Homo sapiens: one gene and its partners. The protein of the gene in region 1 interacts with the protein of each later gene in a biochemical or structural test. Each region holds a gene or a part of one and is shown in the gene's direction. Other genes may lie near its edges.

Region 1 (7,052 bases):
CTGTTGCTGTGAAGTGGTTATAAAACCATTTTGACAACATAAACATCATGATTGCTTCCTCCCTGGTCAGGCTCACAGCCTTTGTTCTGAAGACTTTTGCCCAAGCTCGAGCCTACATCTTCATCGATGAAGCACACATTACCCAAGCCCTCATATGGCTCTCCCAGAGGCAGAAGGACAATGGCTGTTTCAGGAGCTCTGGGTCACTGCTCAACAATGCCATAAAGGTGAATCATTCTGGAGCTAGTTTTGATTTGTCCATTATGATATCTGCAAGGATGAGGATAGGAAGTGATAATGTGAAAAATTCTAAGGGAAAGCCTCAGAGGAAAATAAAACCTGGATGGCACCAAAAAAGAGGGGATAGAACAAAAGTTGATTGTGATACTTTGCCCTATAGGGATGGATATGGGTAAGGATGAATTCCATGACACAGCAGAATAGAAAGAACTAATCAATAGCATTCTCAGAAGTTGAATTATTCAGATCTCTCTCTCGTATTCACAGGGAGGAGTAGAAGATGAAGTGACCCTCTCCGCCTATATCACCATCGCCCTTCTGGAGATTCCTCTCACAGTCACTGTAGGTACCACCCCATTCCTCTGCTGAAGGAGAGTTCTGGATGCAATGAAACTGCTGACCTGCTGTCTGAAATACTATCCTATTAAAAGCAAAGCATCAGCTTTCTTTCTATGCAATGCCAGTGCTTCCCAGATCTACAGAGAATTTGGTCAGCCCATTAAGAAAGGTTTAAATTTTCCCAGTAATTCCCCTAGGCTATTTACCACCACCACTCAAAAAAGAATCTTAAAGATGTATCTTTTGAATGTGAGAATAACAGATAAAAATAATATTATATCTATTGATAAGAATGAGGAATCGTTGGAAAAATGCGTTTGAAAAACTTCTGTGCTGTGATCCGTGTATTTGCCTGGGAATGCTAATATGCCTGTTTACATAGCTTAGTTCCCTTCTTGTTCTGCCTTCACAGCACCCTGTTGTCCGCAATGCCCTGTTTTGCCTGGAGTCAGCCTGGAAGACAGCACAAGAAGGGGACCATGGCAGCCATGTATATACCAAAGCACTGCTGGCCTATGCTTTTGCCCTGGCAGGTAACCAGGACAAGAGGAAGGAAGTACTCAAGTCACTTAATGAGGAAGCTGTGAAGAAAGGTGAGAGCACACCTGAGATCCTTCTCCTGGCCCATCCTCTGTATCAAGAACTGCATGGCAAAAATCCCTCACTCCTACCTCCTGTGATCCCTGTCTCCTCTCTTCTTTTCTATATATCATATATATTTTGTCCATATTGCATCTTATAAAATCTAGGATTTCTTAATCAAATCAGAAATCAGAAGACAAGAGGCCGTGCAGATGCTTCTCAATTACGATGGGGTTATATCCTGACAAACTCATTGTAAAGTCTAAAAAATCTTAAGTGGGACCATTGTAAGTCAGGGACCATCTCTATAGTATGCTGGTAAGAAGAGCATTCTCTGGAGACTAGCTCCAAAATGTGCTACCTATGTGAGCTTGGGAAAGTCATTAACTTCCTTGTGTTTCAGTTCCTTCATCAGTAAAATGGGGATAATAATAGTATTTACCTCACAGAGCTGTTGTAATAAATGAATTGGTACACGTAAAACACTTAGTAGAGTACATGTCACATAGCAAATCCTATAAAAGTACTAGTTATTACAATTAACATATCAGTTCTCAATATATGCCCAACCCTTACCTGGTACATTATATAACCTTAAACATAAGAAAATAATCATGGAAGTAACTCCTTGAATGAATTCTGGTATTTTAAGCCCATTTCATAAGACCAATAATGTTGACCAATCTACTCATATTCACACAGTACTTCTACATATACCATGGTCTATATGAGCGGTTGAAGAAATAGAAAATAAAATGCAAATCACAAGATGTCCATTAAAACAGTCTACCTTTTTCCTTTGACAGCCATTAATTCTTCTTAAAATGTATTGAGAAATATTTTATAATAGATATACAAAAGGGCATAAGCTATAACTAGAAAACACTGTACAACTCTCTCATAGATTAAGAAATAGAAAATTACCGACATGGGAAAAATAAATCCCTTGTGTATCACTACCACCTCCAGAGGCAATCATTATCCTGAATTTGTCGTTACAATTCCATGGATTTCCTTATATTTTTGCTGCATATGTATCCCTAACTAATATTTAGAATCTTCACATGTGTTTCATCTTGAGAGAAACAAGATTTTTATTTCTCTCTTATTCAAGAAACAAGAGAAACATTTTTGAATATTTCAGCAGCTTAGTTTTTTGTTTGTCTGCTTTTTATTTTCTAAGTTCAACACTATGTTGATGAAGACCCCTATACAAGTATGTGCAGAGTCAGCTCATTAATTTTCACTGCTGCATAATATATTACAGTCTATAAATTAGTCATAATTTACACATCGAGTTTCTCCTCATGGATTTTTTTTATGTTTTGCTATTAAAAAAAATGCTGCAATGAATACTCATGTGCCTGTTTTCTTGTGCATCTGTGTTTCTCCAAATTATGCTTTGAGAAGCATAATGACTGATTAGTGGGCTAAGCACATCTTCCCCATTGCTGAATATTGCCAAAGAGCAGTTGGCTTCCCACAGCAGTGTATATTGGTTCCCATTGTTTCACATCCATGTCAGCCTTTGGTATTTCAAGGATTACTGTATTTTTTTTTTCAATTTAATGAGTAGAAACTCTACTATTTCATGTGATCTGTGATCCTCACAAGAAACTGATAAAGACACACTTTATAGGAAATGTAACAAACTCCAGCTATAGTCTAATATAACATCATAAATAGGAAATAGCCAGACTCAATGAGACAACTGCTGTGCCATTTCTTTCTCCCACCAACCCGACTATAGCAACGATTTGAAAACATAGATAGGCATAGGCTTCTGACTCCAGCATCAATATCTGCCTTAGCTGGGCTAAAACACACCAAATTCAGATTTACATGAAGGGAAAAGCATCTACATACAGTACAGGGGATTATAATGGGCATGCAATTCTCATTTCAGCACTGGCTTGGGTACTTTCACCTTGAATTAAATATAAATATGTAGGCACTTATAAATATCTTTTTCTCATCTTTAAGACAACTCTGTCCATTGGGAGCGCCCTCAGAAACCCAAGGCACCAGTGGGGCATTTTTACGAACCCCAGGCTCCCTCTGCTGAGGTGGAGATGACATCCTATGTGCTCCTCGCTTATCTCACGGCCCAGCCAGCCCCAACCTCGGAGGACCTGACCTCTGCAACCAACATCGTGAAGTGGATCACGAAGCAGCAGAATGCCCAGGGCGGTTTCTCCTCCACCCAGGTTGGTGATTTGCCAAAACCTTTTATTTCACCTTCAGGTAGCAAAAGATTTGAATGAAAAAGAAACAAACACATCCAAGAAGAAAAAAATACAGATGACAGTAACTTGAAATGAGGAAAAGTTTTCAGTATCCAAGGATAATGGAAATAAAAGCAAATCAAAGTCAAAGAGGGCCAAAAGGAAATGCTCAGAATCCCGGCACCCCATCGCTGTGTTATTATCCATCTCCTATTTCCCATAACAACACTGCCTTCCTCAAGCAGCAGTGGAGCACCAGCAGAATGAAGGAGATGTCTCCTGCCATTCTCCTGAAAGCTCTAGGGTCTCTTTCAAACTGTTCAAAGGAACTCTACTCAAAATCCAACAACCTCTCCTCGCAAATCTCTCCATTCTTAGGTCCCCTTTAATAGGCTTTTCTCAAAACTACACATTTTGTGCTTCCCCTATTCACCTTTTTTTTTTTTTTTTTTTTAAGACAGAGTCTTGCTCTGTCACCTAGGCTGGAATGCAGTGGTGCAATCTCGGCTCACTGCAACCTCCATCTCCCAGGTTCAAGCGATTCTAGTGCCTCAGCCTCCCAAGTATCTAGGATTACAGTCATGTGCAATCATGCCTGGCTAATTTTTGTATTTTTAGTAGAGACGAGGTTTTGCCATGTTGCCCAGGCTGATCTCGAAGTCCTGAGCTCAGGCAATCCATCCGCCTTGGCCTCACAAAGTGCTAGGATTATAGGTGTGAGCCACTGCGTCCAGCCCCCTATTCACCTCTTAATACACAAACATTTATTCATCAGGAGCATAAAGAACTGTCTTTATTCATCCAACCTCCTAAATCTAGCTATATAACCATGTATCTGAACAATTCATTGATATGTACACAGCAGAAAGTTTTATCTTCAGAGAATTCGGATGTTTGCTTATATACCCTAAAACGGAAAAAATGTGACAAAATGGCATTCCATCCTATTTCCATTGTATTAATCTTTTATCATATGAATGAAAAAAACTAAGTAATTTTGTTAAAGGTTATCATTCATTTATTAGAAACATATTATTTGAAGGAGGCCAAGCAGGTTTAATGTTGTTGAGGATACATACCAGCAGACATTCACTGGGAACAGGAAATCATCCAATAAAAAGGGAAAGCCAAATAAAAATGTCATTAAATCCAGAAGATAATTATAATACTCATCTTTTATTTCTTTTGGAGAAACTGAAGCATGACTCTGCTCATGGCTGCAAAGAACCTTGGGTTCTCTCCAGGACACTGACCTCAGCAACTGAGCAAAGTTTAATATGGGAGAGAGCCAGACTGAACTTTGCTTGAGTGGTGGCAGATATGAGCATAGTTGTCAAGAAAGACATGTTAGCAAATAGCTGATGCCAATAACTGATTGCCATTCACATGTTTTCCACATTCCATGTCCCACATATACTTACAGAGAGAAAAGGATCAATTTTCTGATAAATAAAATAAACATGTAGGGCATACAGTCCAAGGTAGATATGTGAATGTTATGGTTCTTCAACTATCTAAAGATTATAATCAATCTTGAAATTACAGCTCCTATATTTAAGTAGTGAGGGAAGTAGGAAATCAAAGTCCCTCACATGGGTCTTTGAAAAATATCTCAGCCCTCAAAGCCTTATAATGCCCAATGGGTTCTCTCACTCATCTGTCTCTAACAGGACACAGTGGTGGCTCTCCATGCTCTGTCCAAATATGGAGCAGCCACATTTACCAGGACTGGGAAGGCTGCACAGGTGACTATCCAGTCTTCAGGGACATTTTCCAGCAAATTCCAAGTGGACAACAACAACCGCCTGTTACTGCAGCAGGTCTCATTGCCAGAGCTGCCTGGGGAATACAGCATGAAAGTGACAGGAGAAGGATGTGTCTACCTCCAGGTGAGACTCTTGGGCAGGTGAGGACAGGACAGATGAGGACAGCAGCTGTTCTCTCTGAGAAGTCCTAACTCAGAAAACAATGGGACAGATCAGAGAAAGGGTTAGGGACGTGGACAGGAATTCTGGGAAAGGGCAAAAAACTGATTTTGTCTTTGATGTTCTATAGACATCCTTGAAATACAATATTCTCCCAGAAAAGGAAGAGTTCCCCTTTGCTTTAGGAGTGCAGACTCTGCCTCAAACTTGTGATGAACCCAAAGCCCACACCAGCTTCCAAATCTCCCTAAGTGTCAGGTAAGACCTTCTGACTCTATCACCTAATCCTAAGAATAACCACCAGTCTTCTTTCGGGAACTCCTCTTTAAGTAAAGCAGTGCAACAGTAGATATTTGCACTATTCACAAAAAATGCAATGTATTCTCTTAAGTTGATATAATTTCTCAATGATGGGGTTTACATTGTCCATCCAGGATCTACTATTGTGCAACCTCATTGTTTAAAGGGTAATAATTTCCCTCAATAACAACTAAGTAAATATTACCCATTGCCTCTGACCTGAATTCCTTGTTATGTAATGAAATCCTATATTATTCTTGCTTTATTGAAGATAGAGATGAAGAATTATTGAAAAGTTTGAATAGAAGGAAGTAGTGACTCCTTAGTTAGAATTCCTACTGGCAATAATAAATCTCAGGTTATATATGATATAATTAATTTGGGGGGAAGATACACTTATATGCATCAATATTTAAATAGCTGCAGATCTGATAAAAAACTCTCTCTCCACAAACATATTATTACTTGGTTGGAGATACTATTCAGGAAAAAAGTTAGGACAAAATACATGTAACAAATAACTGGCACACATCAAAAAGAATGAGATCATGACCTTTGCAGGAACATGGATGGAGATGGAGGTCATTATCCTTGGCAAACTAGCACAGGAATGGAAAACCAAACACTGCATGTTCTCATTTGTAAGTGGGAGCTAAATGATGAGAACATATGGACACAAAAAGGAGAACAACAGACACCAGAGCCTACTTGAGGGTTAAGGATGGGAGGAGGGAGAAGATCAGAAAAAAACAACAATTCAGTGCAAAATTTAGTACCCAAGTGATAAAGTAATCTGTACACCAAACCCCCATGACACGAGTTTACCTATATAACAAACCTGCATGTGTACGCCTGAACCTAAAAGTTAAGTATATATATATATATTTTTTTCATTTAATTTGGTGTATATATATGCCAAAAAATAAATTAAGCAGTCCAAATTTCGGATGCAAACTCTCGGGGACAAGACGCTAGGTGTTTCTAAGTGTTTTGTTGAAAGCCAGTGTTTAAGTAAACATTATAAATTATTGTTGTTTTTGTAAATAATGTAGACTGAAATTTATTATTCATAATATACATCATTTTGTCAGCTGAAAGAAAATAAAAGTAAACAAATAAATAAAATAACTGGCATAGATTAGAGGTCACAAACAGCCTGTGCATCACTTGTAGAGCTTTCTTAAAATGCAGATCCTCAGCCGGGCGTGGTGGCTCACGCCTGTAATCTCAGCACTTTGGGAGGCCAAGGCGGGCAGATTACCTTAGGTCGGGAGTTCAAGACCAGCCTGACCAACATGGAGAAACCCCGTCTGTACTAAAAATACAAAATTAGTCGGACGTGGTGGTGCATGCCTGTAATCCCAGCTACTCGGGAGGCTGAGGCAGGAGAATCACTTGAACCCAGGAGGCGGAGGTTGCGGTGAGCCGAAATCATGCCATT
Region 2 (2,752 bases), on another chromosome or scaffold:
AAGTGATCCACCCGCCTTGGCCTCCCAAAGGGCTGGGATTACAGGCGTGAGCCACCACGCCCGGCCAGGCTGAGTTTTTCTCCAGCGGTTCATCGAGTCCTCTGACAAAGCAAGGAGCTGATATAGGGCCAGTGGGACGGTCGCCAGTCAAGGGGCTGGGCTTGGTGGATAGATTAATACTCACTGGGCGTCCAGTCAAAACGCCCTGAAACCTATGATGCTGTCAACCAAACGAAGGCCAGGAATACCAAAATAGCCACATAGGCACAGCCCTTCCCCATGTTTCTGAGCACAGTGTTTCCTCTGGGGTCACACAGGTGTCTTCTTGATCAGCCTCAGCCATGCTTGGTGAGAGCCGGGCACTGGGAGAGCCAGGCACTGTGCTCTCCTGTGACGCTGTAGACACCATCCTAAGCTGTGCAGACCCCAGCGCTGCCCAGAGCGGAGCAGAGGGGGCCGGGCCAAGGAGTGGGAGCTGGGGTCAGGGAACCTGGAGGTGCAGTGGACAGAGCCCCGGAGACCGCCCTAGGGACCTACTCCAGACCAAACTCTGCCAGACCTCGGAGCACTGGGGCCTCCTTCTCTGCCCTCCCTCCTCAGGCAAGGCCTCTGGAGCTCCCCAGCTCTCATGGAAGCCCCAGGGGCCCAGGACTGACCCAGCCTCTTCCACAGCCAGAGTCCTGGTGGAGGACGATGAGATCATGCAGGGATTCATCAGGGCTTTCAGGCCCCTGCCCAGGCACCTATGGTACTTGCTGGACTTGAAACAGATGGAAGGTGAGCTCTGCCTAGGACACGCCCAGCCTCAGCTGGAGGAGAAGCTGCCTCTTTCTTAGCCCGAGCCCCCTGCTGGCTCTGCAGGACTCAGGTCACTCCTTTTTGGCCCCTCCCCTGTTCTCCCCTGGCCTTCTGGGGTGCAGAGCCACCCTGAGGTGGGGTCCTGCCCTCTCCCACCATCCTTTCATCCCTTCTCTAGCCCTGGGGCTGCTGTGTCCCCAGCTGTCTCTTCTCTCGCTGACACCTCCACTGTCCCATCTCCTCCCACAGAGCCGTGCCGTTTCTAGGTGAGCTCCTGCCTGGTCCTGCCTCCTGGGTAATGTATCAGCCTCGCCCACTGTCTGCGGCTGCCTCTCTGGGCCCCTGGGACAGACCCTACTGTGTCCAGTTCAGGGCTGACCCTACAGGAATGAACTGGGGTCTGGTCTTGTGATTCCAGAAAGCCAGGCTGCTGACGTCCCCATTCACGAGCCCAGCCTGTGTCTTGCAGCCATTGTATTAGTCACGGGCTTGTGCCCTATAGTCAGACCTCATGCTTTCTTTTGGGGTTAGGGGTGTTGGTTGGAAATGGTGGGGGCTATAGGAGGAGGAAGGAGGATGGTTACATGGAAGGGCATGAGAAGCTGGGGACCTGCAGGTCTCGGTCCCACGTTCTTTTTTTTTTTTCTTTTTTTAAGATGGAGTCTCGCTCTGTCACCAGGCTGGAGTGCAGTGGCACAATCTCAGCTCACTGCAACCTCGACCTCCTGGGTTCAAGCGATTCTCCTGCCTCAACCCCCCGAGTTGCTGGAACCACAGGCGTGTGCCACCATGCCCAGCTAATTTTTGTATTTTTAATAGAAACGGGGTTTCACCATGTTGGCCACGATGGTCTCAATCTCTTGACCTCATGATCCCCCCGCTTTAGCCTCCCAAAGTGCTGGGATTTCAGTGCCACATTCTTAAGGGGGTGTCCTCAAGCCCACCACATCCTTCCAGGGCTCCCCCGAAACACCCTGCTCTTCCTCCCTCTACTTAAGTGACCTGTAAACCCAACAGCTCACCTCCGCCTCCAGGAAGACCAGACTCCCACCCTTCCACACCTCCAGAGCAGTGGGACTTCCTCCTGCCCTTTCAAAGAATAACCACAGCTCAGAAGACGATGACGTGGTCATCTGTGTCGCCATCCCCTTCCTGCTGCACACCTGCACCACGGCCATGGGGAGGCTGCTCCCTGGGGGCAGAGTCTCTGGCAGAGGTTATTAATAAACCCTTGGAGCATGTCCTGTCTGGATGCGCAGCCACTGCTGGGTGTGGGATTCAGGGACGAGGGCCTGGGGTCGGGGCAGGCCCAGGCCACCGCCTGGCAGAACCGGAGCTCCTACAGACCCATGGGCAGCTTCTGGTGGAGAAAATACCTCAAGTTTCTTATCTACAAAACAAAAGGGTCCACTTTCACAAACTTGTGAAATGTCTAGAACAATAAAACCAGGACACTCATATCAGAATTGATGAGCCCAGAGGAAAACTCATAGTCTTTAATACTGAAATGGGTTAGCAAGAAATAATTAAAATCAATGAATCTGTAATGAGCTCTTGTTAGAAAAAAAAGCGTTAGAATGAGGAAAGTAAGAAAATAGAATGAAGGAAGATAAAAGCAAAAATGACAAAATCAGAGAAACATATCAAATTCATGCACCTGTGCCCCCAGGTGGGGAGGGGTGGGCATGGTAGGATTTAGCTCACCTGTCAGAAACACCCAGGAAAAAAAATTCCAGCAAGTATCAATCACCACAGATTAAGAGAAAATAGATTAAAAGAGTCATAAGGGATTATGCTATTTGACTCCAGAATATATTTTTTACAATCCAAAAGAGATGATTTCAAGGCAAATATAAGCATCCAAAACAGATCAGAGAAGACTGGAGACAGAGTAGGTAAGGACCCTTCCCAAGGCAGACAGACAGACACAGTCAGAGGTCTGTGTCCCAGCCCA
Region 3 (7,040 bases), on another chromosome or scaffold:
AGCTGGGAAAAATGACCAATGACAAAATGAACCTACTTCCAAATGTTTCTGGCCTTTCTTAGGGCTGAACCTGATCTGTTCCTCCCCCAAACCCCCCGCACTCCCAAAAGGACCTTGTCTGGAGTTCCCTTTAGCTTGCTTCATCTGGATGGGGTGGGCCTGCTAGGGGCTCCCATGGAGACCTCCGTAGAGATGAGCCCAGGGTTCACAGTGGCAGCAAGTCCTGCCTTGGAGGTGCCACTGAACATGAATGTAGAGTCACCAGAACCATGCCAGGAAAAACTGGGGGTCCCAGGAAAAACCAGGGGTGTCGGGGAGGTGCTGGTGGGAATGGAGCAAGATGACACTCTAAGGACTGAATATTGTCAGCATTTTCCTGGGCCTGAGAAAAAGCCCACAAGGAGGGGTGGGCCTTCTTCTTTCGTTATTGTATAAACAGGGCAGAGACAGGACAGACAGATGGCACCAAGGGCTTCCGGAGGGAGAGCCTGGGATTCGCATGGTTCGGTCCTGGCTGGCTCCACAGGGGACTCACTGCTGGCCTTTGAGACTTCCAGGAAGTGGGTTTTCTTGGTGGTGTTTGGGGCAGGTGTAAATATTTATGTGCCCCTTTCCTCTTAAAGTGAAAGCTTGTATTTATTCTGAGCCCCAGAGCAGCTTCTAAGCCCCACTATTTCTGGGCTCAAGCAGGTGAACAAAGAAAAACTATTGCTGTGCGGTGATTGCCAGGCAGCCTCTTCCCAGCTGCCCAGGACCTGTCGCCCTTGACATCTCCCTGGCTGTCCCTATACACCACCAGCACCAAGCTTCGCAGGTGCCTGCTGGGTTTCTGGCTTGCATCTCTTCCCTGCGGCCACCAGCTGACGCCTGCATTCACATTCTAAGGAACCCGTCTGTCCCAACCACCACGACAACCCCCTTCCCCCCTACTCTTACCTGCAGCCCACGCAGGTCACAGCCATTAGATCCTTCCCCTGAAGCGCTGCTTCCCTCCTGCCGCACTCAGGGCTCCCTCCTGCCTTCCATGCCCAGGACAGGGCCTCCCGGCCTCTCCAGGTCTCTGGAGCAGAGAGGTTGTGCCTTCCTCATGCGGTCAGGCTCAGGCTGGGAAGGAGCGGCCCAGAGGCGGGGGGAGGCACGGGTGCGGGGCTGCCTCTTCCCCGGTAGTGGACGCTGAAGCCTGTCCACCTGAATTGGAGGCGGGGCGGGGCAGTCGACTGACCGCCAGGCAGGGGAGCAGGGCGCGGGCTCAGAGGGAGGGAGTGGGAGGCCGAGGAAGGACAAGGTGCTTGTGGCGATGAGTATCAGAAGGCAGAGCGGAGCTGCTCAAGAGAGGCTGGCTCTGTGGAGGTGAGGACCTGCAGGTGGGCCTGGCCTCTCTGTGGGATGGTACCCAGGGCAGGAGGAAGAGAAACACCTGTTTAGAGAGAGGGGGAGGGTCTGGGCCAGTTGTGTGCGGACTCTGCCATGGAGGCAGGGGGAACCAGGGCGGGGCCGTCTGTGTAATTCTAATGTCATTTGCTAATGGTGGTTGCCCGCAGCTGGGGAGCAAGAGGGGAGGAGATGGGACCACCCGGCCAGAGAGAGGAGGGGTCGAAGGCCCCCTTGGAGGAAGGGCCCAGCGCACAGGGCCTGCAAGGAGTTGGCCCCTTCCCCACCCACAGCTGGGCAGTGCCCACTGAGATCATCCTCCCTACTTCACAAACAGAGACACAAAGGCCAGACAGCTTGAGGTTAAGGAGCTCGGTCAAGCCCACACCACAGTACAGGGTGGGGGCCGGGATTTGACCCAGGTCCACAGGGTGCCCACTCTCTAGGCAGCACCTGCACAGAACAGGGCAGTGCCATAGGGAGGGGCTGCGCGCTGGGCAGGAATGCATCTTCGGCTAGAAAGAGTCTAGAAGGAAGATCAGAAGTGGCGAGACTGCACAATTAAGAAGTGCTAAGAAGTCACACTGGACAGACCTGGTCTTGGTAGCCAAGCGCTGAAGTCACCCCTGCAGCCGTCCTCCGCTTTGGCGCCTCTTCCCAGCGTCCCTGCCCCCCTCCTTTGGCCCTCCTGGAAAGGACACTTTGCGTTTTCTGTTGCCCTTGCCTATACAGCACAAACATGCTCATTTAAGAAGTGGAACGTGGGAGGCAGCAGACAACTGTGTTCATCTGAAAGGAGGAGGCCCCACTCCCGTGCAGGCGCTGCCCCTGGGGGTGAAATTCCCAAGCTTGTTGGGGATTCTCCCGCCTGGCGTTGCCGCTCTGAATGCCAGCACCTAACCCCTAATGTCCCTACTGCAGCCCTCCCAGCATCCCCCCTGCAACCTCCCAGCAACTCCCTGTACCCCTCCTAGGATCGCTCCTGCATCCCCCATTATCCCCCCCTTCACCCCTCGCGGCATCCCCCCTGCACCCCCAGCATCCCCCCTGCAGCCCCCCCAGCATCTCCCCTGCACCCCCAGCATCCCCCCTGCAGCCCTTCCAGCATCCCCCTGCACCTCTCCCAGGATCTCCCCTGCAACCCCCATTATCCCCCCTGCACCCCTCGCAGTATCCCCCCTGCACCCCCCAGCATCCCCCCATGCACCCCCGGCATCCCCCCTGCACCCCTCCAGCATTCTCCTTGCACCCTACCAGTATTCCCCCGCATCCCGGCCTCCAAGCCTCCCGCCCACCTTGCGGTCCCCGCCCTGGCGTCTAGGTGGCACCAGAATCCCGCGCGGACTCCACCCGCTGGGAGCTGCCCTCGCTTGCCCGTGGTTGTCCAGCTCAGTCCCTCTAGACGCTCAGCCCAACCGGCCGCACAGTTTTCAGGGGTCAGTTCCTCCAAGTACAAGGGGCGGTGGCTTCTCTGGAGCTGCAAACTTGTCACTGCTATTTCCTTTCGGTCTTCTACTTCCTATCGTTCCTGGCCTCCTCTTGGGGAGAGGTAGAGCCCTCTCCTTTCCGCCTCAGGGACAACCCAAAGCAAGTACTGCATGTGCCCTTTTTAAAGTTTTAAATAATTTTAGCAAAAAGGATATTAACATTAAATCAATTTTTAAACTTTTTGAAAAAATTATCAAAACTACATGCACATGGTTCAAAACAATAGGCTCCTGCTGGGCCCTTTCAGATAATTCAAATTGTCACCAGGTTGGAGTGCAGTGGTTCGATCACGGCTCACTGCAGCCTCGACCTCCCGGGCTCAGCTGATCCTCCACCTCAGCCTCCTGAGTAGCTGGGAACACAAGCGCGAGCAACCACGCCCGGCTAATTAAAAAAATTTTTTTTCTAGAGATGGGGTCTTGCTGTGTTGCCCAGGCTGGTCTTGAATTCCTGGGCTCAAGCAATCCTCCCGCCTCAGCCTCCCAAAGCACTGTGCTCCTTTTTGACGCAGCTTTGAACTGTAGCTGGTTAACAAAATGAGAACCAGTTCTTCATTCCTTCATTGTGGAAGTCTTTATTGTGAGACTCTGGGGACGGAGAGGAATTAGACAAGGGCCTCTAAGCTGAGCTCACATCCCAGCCGGTCAGTCAGATAAACGCATGGGTATCGAGTACTGCTAGGTCCCAGGAAGAAAGAGAGAGCAGCTTTCGGGATGGGGACGATGGGGAGGTGTCCGAGGTCAAGAGAAAGCGGCACGAGCAGACCCCTGTGTGCCGTCCTGTGGGCGCGGGGCGGCAGGGGAGGCGCACACCTGCTCCTTTGTGCAGCCTCCCCCCTCCCGCAAAGTTAAAGAGCAGGAAAGTCAGGATTCCTCGCTCGGCCCTGCCCTGCCGGCTGCTCCGCGCTCCGCTCCTCCCTGCGAGCGTGTGTGTGTGTCGGGGGTCCCTCCCCTCCTGGCTCTGGGGTCGGGCGCGCACCCCGCCCCGTAGCGCGGCCCCTCCCTGGCGAGCGCAACCCCATCCAGCGGGAGCGCGGAGCCGCGGCCGCGGGGAAGCATTAAGTTTATTCGCCTCAAAGTGACGCAAAAATTCTTCAAGAGCTCTTTGGCGGCGGCTATCTAGAGATCAGACCATGTGAGGGCCCGCGGGTACAAATACGGCCGCGCCGGCGCCCCTCCGCACAGCCAGCGCCGCCGGGTGCCTCGAGGGCGCGAGGCCAGCCCGCCTGCCCAGCCCGGGACCAGCCTCCCCGCGCAGCCTGGCAGGTGGGTCCGCTTTTCCTCTCCGCCTCGAACCCACGTTTCTTTCCAGACCTTCTTCCCCGCCTCGGGGAGGGGGATAGAACCGCTGCGCCCCACCGCCCTGCGAGGAGGCGAGGAGGTGCATGCGCCCCAGCGGTGGGCGCCGGATCCTGCCCCTGCGCCCTCCACGCTCAGCAAGAGCCAGAGCTGAAGCTGACCGGCCAGAGTGGGAGACGAGGAACGTGGAGTGCTCGAAGTGGGCGGGCGTAGGGGGCTCCTTTGTCTATTGTTGCAGGGGCTTTGCAACCTCTTGAGGACCCGTGAAAGACCCCTTAAAGAGGGTCTTGAGCAAAGTGCTGTCCTGCGCTTTGGGAAGAGTTGCTTGCTTTCGTTTCAACCCATGGTTTATGTTTGATCTTTACTTTGCTGTCATCGCGTGCAGGTGGCTTTATGCAAAGGGAGAGTTCTGGTTGACACAAATGCCCAGACAGCTAGAGAAATCTCTGAGTGGCGCCTAAGTGGGCCGAGTCTCCGTGCGCTTGGGTGGTTTCACTGTCAGAGCTGAGGCGCTCTCAGACACCTCACAGGCCATTCAGAATGTATGTGAAACTCCAACTCCAACGACTGTGCTACGTGGTTGAAGGATATAACCATCATTTGCTTGAAAATTGTGTACATTCAAACTTGTTCTTGAAAAAAAGCTCTCTGGAGCTCAAGAGTGGATTTGGGTCTTGGGCTAAGGAGCAGATTTTCTTCTGAACTGGGGCTTTTGCATATTGAATTGTTCCTTTTCCATTTGGGACTCTGAAGAATTTGAGAGGGGTAGAATTTCTGAATCAGACATTACAAAGACTTTGTGTATGTATTTTTACCATCAGTTTTGTCCAGAAAAGTGAACCTGGTCAATGGATTATTTATGAGCCTGCTAGCTAACTCTCATCATAGGAAGACGAGAGCAAATATTTAATGTGTTTTGCCTTCAGTTACATAGGAAAAATGTCTAAGAAGGTGACATTGGGACTTGTGTTTAATGAAACAGAGAACTGTGGGCAGCGTCAGTGTTGGGTTTTTAGGAGCGTAGGGAGCACACAGCTTTGACTCTTTGTCCCATTACTTGCTTCTGTGTGAAGCCACTGAGGCCCCAGGGTTCGGGTTTTCCTGCCACGCACTCTGGGGTGGCAGTGACCGTTCCAATATGGATGAGTGAGAAGCAGGTTCTTATGAGGTTTGTGCAAATTGAGCAAGCCACTTGGGGCATGGGTTTTTCCTCTTTTCTTTCTTTCTTTCTTTTTCCCACTAAAGAACAGATTGAAAGTGCTTCACAATTAATCAAAAGTCCCCTCAACACTCTGGTGATCCATCTAAGACCTCTCAGAGATATAACCACCAGCACAGATATTCAAACCCATTTTTTTCAATCTCCTTGTTTAAGAAATATATATATACTAGGAGTGGGATGGGGGAATAATGTTGATGTTTTAATGGAATCTGAAAGACCTCAGAAATTCCTCTCGGGGGATGTTTAGAGTCGTCTGAGCATTTTGATGAAACTTGGAGAGGCATGTTGAAGAGTTTCGCAAATAGGTGAGGTGCCTGAGGAATGGGGATGCTTGGCTGGAGGGGGGTTAGGAGCATGGATCAGTCTGTTTCTTACAGCAGGTGCTTGCTTCCCAAACACCCTGGATGTCCGCTGCCAAACAGAAACACAGGTAACTCCAGACATTAAGCCAATACGTGGCAGCTCCTTCTCCTTCCTAGTTGTGGAATGAATGGTATAATTGGAGAGAATATAGAAGGCAGGGCTTCCTGAAGAAGCTTAATTTTAATTTGGCTTCATGAATCAACAGGATATGGTCATGACTTGACTTTTTCTAAAGATGTCTGGACAGCCAGAGCAAAAATTATACAGTCACTTTTGGTTGTTGTTGAGAAGGTAACTCAGACCTTAGTTATTCCCAGTAACATATCAGCTCCTCGTGGTCCTCAGCTCTAAATGAGGGGCTGTGGAGAGGACTGCCTAACACGATGTCCGAGTCCCCTCCAACTCACTCTGCAACCATGACCCTAACCTCTCCACTTTAAGAAAACATGAGTTGAAATGATGGTGCAAAAATGCCGGAGGGCCGGTACTCTCTACCCAGATATCACCTTCAAATCAGGGTCTCCTGGGGATCCCCTCAGGTTTCACTCTAAGGCAGAGGCTTTGCACACTCTGACACATGTAAGTAAGTTAACCCCTGCACCTTAACCACAGCCAACCAACAGGGGCCCAATAACCCGACTCCCCAGCTGCCCAAATGCCCTTTGCAAGATGCCCAGGGTGTGGTGCGGTAGAAATAGCCCCCAGGCAGCACAAATTTGGGCTGCACCGATTTTCCTGTCCAGTCCCTGGGCTATTAACAGCCACCTCCACTCCCTGATGTTTGCGGTGTTCCATGGAACATACGTGGGTGTGGAGCGAAACATCTCATAAAAGCGCCTGTTTCTCCACACTTGGGACAAGTGAGGCAGACTCCCTTGCTCTTACAGGGAATCTGTTTCTGGGCTTAACCAGGCAAAATGACATTCCAAGGGAAGAAAACTCCCATCTTTCTAGGAGGGACCCAGGGGAAAACAGATGAAACTAGCCTTTCACAGAAACCTGGCATCAATGATCTTCCCTGAGCAGAAAGGCAAATTGCTCTTCCAGGTGGGCACGGGCTCCACCATTGGCCTGCACAGCCCCGTACTTCCAGGTGGAGCTCACGGTGCTGACTTTGGTTCACATTCAGAAATGTTGCCCTGTGAGAAACGTCTCTGCAGGGGCTGCTCCCTTCAGCCTGACTTTTGTTTGCTCTGGGTGACTGGGAAGACGAATGCTCATTTACTGAATGTCAACAACGCGCTTTTAAATGGGAGCAAGTGTTTTCCCAGCCCTGTGTCTAATGAGGTGACAAAATG
Region 4 (7,000 bases), on another chromosome or scaffold:
TTCTCAGGTGACGCAGATGCTGCTGGTCAGGAGACTGCACTTTGAGAACCAGTGGCTTATACCAATCAGTATCTACCCCTAGAATGGGGGTAGGGGACACAGGGTCAGAGGAGGTGAAGGCTGGATCATAAATGTGGAGTTTTGTGAAGAAGGATGGTGGGGAAATAGATAATTAATGCTAGGTAGACCATCCAGAGTGCATGCTGTCTTAAAAGATTGTGGGGATTAAATTACAAGGCACATAAATAAAGCACATGGCATTTAGTAGGACCCTCAATAAATGATAACTCTTACTCTTGACAAAGTACACAAATTCATTTCATTTTAATTCAGGAAATACTTGAGTGTCATCAGCTCCTGCCCCAATTGGCCTCTAATCAAATAGGAGAGTTAAGACAAACAGACACTACTGTTCCAGGCACTCAGAGTTGATGATTTTGAGAGGCTTAGAGAGGGAAAACACAATATGGATGGAGGTAGTCAGGGAAGGCTTCCTGGAGGAGGTAGAGGGAGAGAACAGGGTAGGAGGATGTTTCTCAGCTCCAGCAGATTGCAGACAGGAACTCTGCCCGTTCTCCAGTCCTTCTCCAACCTTCCTTTGATCCTGCCTCCCACTCCCATCATGGAATCATCTCTGGGATGTTTCTGGGTGGGTTTGGGGGTGTGTGTGGTTCGAGCTGCAGGGTGACTGAAGATGTGGTTTCCTGTGCCCCCTTGCCTCCTGCCAGGTTCATTTGGCGGACTGTGACGCCACGTGACAAGCCCATGGGGCCCCTGCTGGTGGCCACATTCTGGCCTGAGCTCCCGGAAAAGATTGATGCGGTATACGAGGCCCCACAGGAGGAGAAGGCTGTGTTCTTTGCAGGTGTGTGGGAAGCACCCTTCCTTGGCCCTCAGCTCCACAGGGCTCTGCACCAGGGCTCCTGGGTGTCCCAGGCTCACTCCCCCTCTCAAACCACAGTTCCTATGCACCCGTGGGTGCTCCCTTTCCTTTATGGATTCATTCTTTCAACATTATTTCCTGAAGTGCGCAGCTCCTCTGGGAGATTGGTTCCGACACCCAACATCAGATAGCATTAACCCTCAGTGTACACATTTCATTTTCTTAATTCTTTTCAATCCGTCTCATTTCTTTTCTAGAAGAAAAAAAGTCTCAGTTTAGTGCTGGTGTGTCCCTAACGCCTTTGTAGTGATACAGTCTTTGGCAGGTAACAGTTTTAGTTCGAATGTTTTAAAGAATATTTGTTTTCATTTTTACTTTTAGACATAAATTGGTTTTAACAGAGGCAGTTAGTTATAATAGTGTGGAGTTTCAAATCAGGACAGAAACGGATTATTCAGTAACTGATATTTTGACAGTCAAAAAACATTTTTTAATAAATTTATTTTTAAAGATTTCAAAATGAATTCACTGAAAGCAGAATGTTAAGTAAATAATAGTACAGGGAGCCCCTAGAAGTGGTAGAAATCATCAAGGTGAGGTCTGTATGGCTAAGGTTTACTCATTTAACATTTATTGGAGCATTTCCATGCGCTGGGCTTTGCCATACCCTGGGGATACAAGCTCTGCCTTCGCGATGCTCACAAACCACTCAGGGAGACAGACAGCTGGGCTCTTATGAGGGGTAAAGAAGGATTTAGGAGGTCCCTGTCCTGGTCTGAGGTGGGATCCTAGAGAAGATAAAGGCTCAGCCAAGACTATTGTCTCCACCACCTGGCTCCCACCTCCCCCAATCCACCGTAATCATGGGTCCCGGAGAGGACAACTGCTGGCTCCTAGGGCACCTTTTTGCAAATTAGCAAAAGGTGCCTCTTTATGACAGCAAGGCCCTTAGAGTGCACGACTTGGTGAGCAGAGTGTGAGCTGGATTTATCCCCCAACTCATGTCCTTGACCAGGCACCTTCTGTAATTGACTTCTAAAGCCCTCTGTGTGAGCCCTGATTCTGGGCACTGCAACCAGGAGTGAGCAGGAAGTTGCACTCTGTTGGGAATGGCTGCAGTGGGGCCCGTGGACAGACAGATGATGGGAGGAACAGGCTGGCCTAGGGCATGTCAGCACCAGCCAACACACCCTTTGCTTCCACCCCAGGGAATGAATACTGGATCTACTCAGCCAGCACCCTGGAGCGAGGGTACCCCAAGCCACTGACCAGCCTGGGACTGCCCCCTGATGTCCAGCGAGTGGATGCCGCCTTTAACTGGAGCAAAAACAAGAAGACATACATCTTTGCTGGAGACAAATTCTGGAGGTAAGGGAGGGCGGTGGGTAGGACAGCAGCACAGTTGGCTGCGAGAGACAGAGAAGCCGCCCTGAGGCTTCAAGCCTCCTGGGCTGAGTTCAGAGGTTGGTGGGCTCTGGATGCCCTCTCTCTGGTATCTAACCTCTTTGGTCTCTGGCACCTCTGAGATGTTGCCAAAGGTGAACCATTCTTGTACACATTGCTGATATAATTCTGGTGGAATATCCTTTCTCTTTGCAGAATTCTTTTGATTGGCCCATGTCTGGTCTGGACCCTCACATTTTGAAATGACTCACTGAAGAAGGGGGTAATAAAAATAAAGATAATAACTGCTCCTATTGACACTATGTGTCAGAGACTGTCCCAAGGGTTCTATGGGATAGGAATTATTATTCCTCCCATTTTACAGATGAGGAAACCTGGGTTCAGAAAGGTTAGGTAACCGTGGCTGGGCACAGTGGCTCACGCCTGTAATCCCAGCACTTTGGGAGGCCAAGATGGGTGGATCACTTGAGCTCAGGAGTTCCAGATCAGCCTGGCCACATGGTGAAACCCCATCTCTACTAAAAATGCAAAAAAATTAGCTGGACATGGTGGTGCATGCCTGCAATCCCAGCTACTAGGGAGACTGAGGCAGGGGAATCACTTAAACCTGGAAGACAGAAGTTGCAGTGAGCTGAGATCATGCCACTGCACTCCAGCCTGGGCAACAGAGTGAGACTCCAACTCAAAAAAAAAAAAAAGAAAAAAGAAAGGTTAAGTAACCAGCTTGGAGTCACATAGCCAGGTAGGGACAGGTTGGGATTTGAACCCTGGCATTCTGTCTCCTGGGAAAACATGTTAGTCTTCACTCTTCACTACTATTCTATACCCGAGATGGTGGAATGGGGGTTCCAAGAGATGGGGGAACATGAAGGCAGTGGACAAAATATGAAGAAGACTTAGAGATGGGTGCACCAGTCATCCATAGAAGCCAGCATCCAAATCAGACCCCATGGAAGGAGCAGGTGCCCTGTGTCATGCTCACAGCAGGCCCGTGGCTGTGGGTGCAGGTTGGCAGGGGAACAATTTGGAAGCAGATGGTTCTGTGCTCCAGGTTATCTACAGGAAAGGGTCCAGTTCTGAGGGGCTATAGTCATGACCAGGGAACCTAATATCCAGGAGTGGCTGGTGAGAGGTAGCCCAAACCTCAGGAGTTTGACTGTAATTCTTCACACTTTCTAGAAAAGGAAACGGAGGTCCAAAGAAATTAAATAACTTGTTCAAGCTATAGAGATATGTGTATTTGCACAAAGCCAGGATTATAGCTACTTCTCTTGTATTCTAACTGAGTACCCCCTCCACTATACCTGCCAGTCCATTTGATTAGTGAGGAAAGAGTGGTCGGGGCACAAAGACTTGTGGTGTGTCTTTCCATCCCCTCCCTCCTGGTATCCCCACATTCCTTCCATGGCTGCCACTGCATCTGGGCCCTACCCAAGAATTTTAGAGGGCACTTCCTGAGGCCTTTGTCTGCCATCCCCAAAACAATCCCGCTTACTTCCTAAGGCCTCTGTCTTCTCCCCCTTCCCTCCTCCCCACTACTCTGCCCCCCAGCTGCCCTGCATTCAGAAACTCTTTATATCCCAGGCCTGCCCATGTCAGGGTGGAATTCCAGACATATTGCTAAGACACTTAGCAACCTAAGCTGATTGATATCTCAAGCCTCAAGAAAGAAAACAGTCAGGCAGGAAACCACAGAGCAGGCTTTCCACCCACCAGCTCCAGACACTAGCCCCAGACAGTGTGCACGCACACGCACACACACACACGCGTACTGCGAATGGCATCTCAGCATTGTAGGAGCCCTGAATCTCCAAGTCTTAGAATTGTGGCTGGTGAGCCGCACAGACTCACAGAAACGTGAATCTTAGAATCCTAAAGCCCTGAAGTTTTCAAATTATGGTGTTGGAAGAACTTTTTAAATCACTTTTCCATGCACTGTATCTATGTAAACATGCAAAAACAGACCTGTTCCTAGCATATAGGAACATGATTGTGTGCGCATGTGCGCATACACACACACACACACACACACACACACACACACACACACACACAGGCATGGAGGTTGTGGCAGTGCCTTGCTGGATTTCCAGGCAGAGTTATTTGCCTCCCAGTCCTTTTCCACACAAGCCCACCTCCCAAAGCCAGAGCCAGGACAGACAGCGTGCTCTACAGAGGAACCACCCTGAGACTTCCTGAAAAGGGACAGAGCTGAAGGGCCTATCAGAAGCTCTGGGCTGGCTTCCAAAGGAGACAGATCTCTATTCCAAGAGAAGTGGTGAATGAGCTTGTGACACTGGCCCTGCCGTGGAGTCTGCAGAGGCCCCAGAGGCATCTTTGCTGGAGAAGGAGAGAGAGCCCCAGAGTGACAGAGGCTGAGCAGCTGTCTTCAGCATGCCAAGAAGAGCTCAGGCCCTGCTTGTAGAAGCTTTCACTAAGCCACAAATATATGTTCCACATCTGCTGTGTGCCAGGCACTTAGCTAGCTGCTGGAGAGACGGGGGTCAAAAAATCATCACACCCTGCCCTCATGTAGTTTATAGTAGAATGAGGGAAAATTATGTAAACACATTTGAATCAGATAATGATGGCTCTCAGTATGGGGCCTCTACCATAGCCCAGCCTGAGGCTATGCAGGTCACCTATATTTCTCAGTTGAGGTAGATACTGTTAGCTCCTTTTCCCAAGTGTGGAAACTGAGGCTAAAGTGGCTCAAGGAAAAGCTGGGACACAAATATCTGTGTTCTTAACACCTGCTATACATGGCAACTTCTACAGCTGCAGAGAAGTACCACATCTTCTGACACCACAGTGCTTGTATTCTTTCTGGATGAAAAGAACTTGGAAGCAAACTAATTCTCTTATCTGAGACTCAGTTTCCTCATCTGTAAAATGGGCTTGACTTCTGCCATCCCCACCTTCTGTGGGTAGAATGAGAAAGAAATGAGGGCCAGTTCAAGTGTGGGACACACATCTCCAAACTATCCTAACGCTAGGGAATGTAGTTTGAGGGCTCAGTGGAGGTGCCTTGGATGGGAGTGTTGGGATTTTGAGCTAGGGAACTTGGTTTTGGTGACCCAGGGCATGAGGAAGCATGCCAGGTTTTGTAAGAATGAGTTTTATGCTGCACCTGGGATTAAGGAAGGCGTTAGTTCTTCGGGGTGATGGCTGAGGGAGAAGTCCCTTTGAGGGAGAAGTCTCCTCTAGAAGGGAGCATATAGGGAAAGCTGCTGTTGGGGTCCAGGGTGGAGGTGGTCAAGGCTGGCTGCAGAAAGGAAGGGAGCCCCCTAGGAGGCACTGTGGAGCAAAAGGTGGCTGCTACCAGGATGGGATGCGAACACAGATTCATCTAGAAACAGCTCCACTTGGGCAAGACTTGTTTACTAGGATATCCATAGCTCCCATAGTGGGAGCTCAGTAAATATTTATGGAATAATGAAGTGGAGAGGCAAAGGAATCAACATGACAGCAGCATTTAAAAAGTTCTCCAAAAATCTTAAAAGACAGAAGGATTGCTAGCCAGGGAGAAGAACATACTAACCGATGCCCAAAGTATTTACCTGAATTAAAGGCGGGGCCCAGGATTGCTGCCGCCGGAACTGAGGTGGCATGTGGCCCACCCTGTGACTAACAGGCCTTGGACTTACACGTACCTTCCACCTTGCATTGTAACCTCACTGCCCCAGCCATGGTCATCTCCCAGGGCAGGGACTGTCATCTCCCTGTGGCAGATGAAGAAGCAGCAATTTTTCCAAGCCATGAAGTGAAAGAATGATGGGGCAGATTCCCATCCCTGGGCTTCTAGTTTAGCACTCCTCGGATTACAGCAGGGATTTGTTTGTAAGGGAGCTAACATTTCTTAAGTACCTACTAAATATTTATGAGACATGGGGATAGAGGCTCTGCATGTGCTGTTTTATTTAATGCATGCATTAAATTAAATACACTAAATTAGACACAACCCCATTTTACAGCTGGTAAAACTGTAGCTGTATGGAAAGTGGTTAACACACTGTTTGGCATGTAGTAAGTGCTTTATAAATGTTAGCAGTAATCATGAGATTGTTTTTATGGGGTCATCCAAAGTCATATAATTAAAAGTGGTAGATCTGAGGCTCAGACTCAGGTCTGATTCCATGCCCTTCCTTCCACTGCAGCTGGCTGCTTCCCTGAAGGGCTAGGTCCAGTTTCCGAGGCCTATCCAGGAGCCATCAGCTGGGTGCTCCCATCCAGGCCAGGGGGGAAGTGTCCTTTAGAGAGGCCCTGCTGGTTCACTGTGTCTGTTTCTTTACAGATACAATGAGGTGAAGAAGAAAATGGATCCTGGCTTCCCCAAGCTCATCGCAGATGCCTGGAATGCCATCCCCGATAACCTGGATGCCGTCGTGGACCTGCAGGGCGGCGGTGAGCCACCCAGGACTGTCTCCGCTTTCTAGGACTCCCCGCCCCTAGCCAGGGCCCAGCTCCTTGCAAATACACACTTCTTTATTGTGCAGGGCAGGCAGGCAGGCGGCGCCCAGGAAAACAAATCAACTCCTTCATCCTAGTGCTGGGAAGGTTTCCAGATCCCTGACCTCTGCTCCTTGGCCTGGCTCCAGGCAGTAAGACCCAGAAAGACTTCTCACAGCTGCAGGGCCTGGAGCCAGGGCAGGGGAGGGCGGAAGGCCTGGGCCAGGGGAGAAGGAACATGGGCTCTGTGCCGTGGATTCATTC

Evidence for each region.
Region 2: the proteins of A2M (region 1) and PAEP form a complex in vitro, tested with the Homo sapiens proteins (one study listed by BioGRID).
Region 3: the proteins of A2M (region 1) and SLC6A4 form a complex in vitro, tested with the Homo sapiens proteins (one study listed by BioGRID).
Region 4: the proteins of A2M (region 1) and MMP2 form a complex in vitro, tested with the Homo sapiens proteins (one study listed by BioGRID).

Annotation. Positions count from the first base shown.
Region 1 is NC_000012.12:9,070,876-9,077,927, reverse strand, and holds part of A2M (alpha-2-macroglobulin isoform a precursor), read left to right. Parts: intron 1-70; coding exon 71-227; intron 228-507; coding exon 508-582; intron 583-991; coding exon 992-1,172; intron 1,173-3,144; coding exon 3,145-3,368; intron 3,369-5,056; coding exon 5,057-5,275; intron 5,276-5,441; coding exon 5,442-5,569; intron 5,570-7,052. UniProt on the Homo sapiens protein: Is able to inhibit all four classes of proteinases by a unique 'trapping' mechanism. This protein has a peptide stretch, called the 'bait region' which contains specific cleavage sites for different proteinases.
Region 2 is NC_000009.12:135,564,738-135,567,489, forward strand, and holds the end of PAEP (glycodelin isoform 1 precursor), read left to right. Parts: intron 1-600; coding exon of another isoform or gene 601-672; coding exon 673-777; intron 778-1,047; coding exon 1,048-1,064; exon of another isoform or gene 1,065-1,093; intron 1,094-1,796; exon of another isoform or gene 1,797-1,815; 3' UTR 1,816-2,218; downstream 2,219-2,752. UniProt on the Homo sapiens protein: Glycoprotein that regulates critical steps during fertilization and also has immunomonomodulatory effects. Four glycoforms, namely glycodelin-S, -A, -F and -C have been identified in reproductive tissues that differ in glycosylation and biological activity.
Region 3 is NC_000017.11:30,232,697-30,239,736, reverse strand, and holds the start of SLC6A4 (sodium-dependent serotonin transporter), read left to right. Parts: upstream 1-4,039; 5' UTR 4,040-4,124; intron 4,125-7,040.
Region 4 is NC_000016.10:55,496,198-55,503,197, forward strand, and holds part of MMP2 (72 kDa type IV collagenase isoform 1 preproprotein), read left to right. Parts: intron 1-728; coding exon 729-865; intron 866-2,091; coding exon 2,092-2,251; intron 2,252-6,581; coding exon 6,582-6,691; intron 6,692-7,000.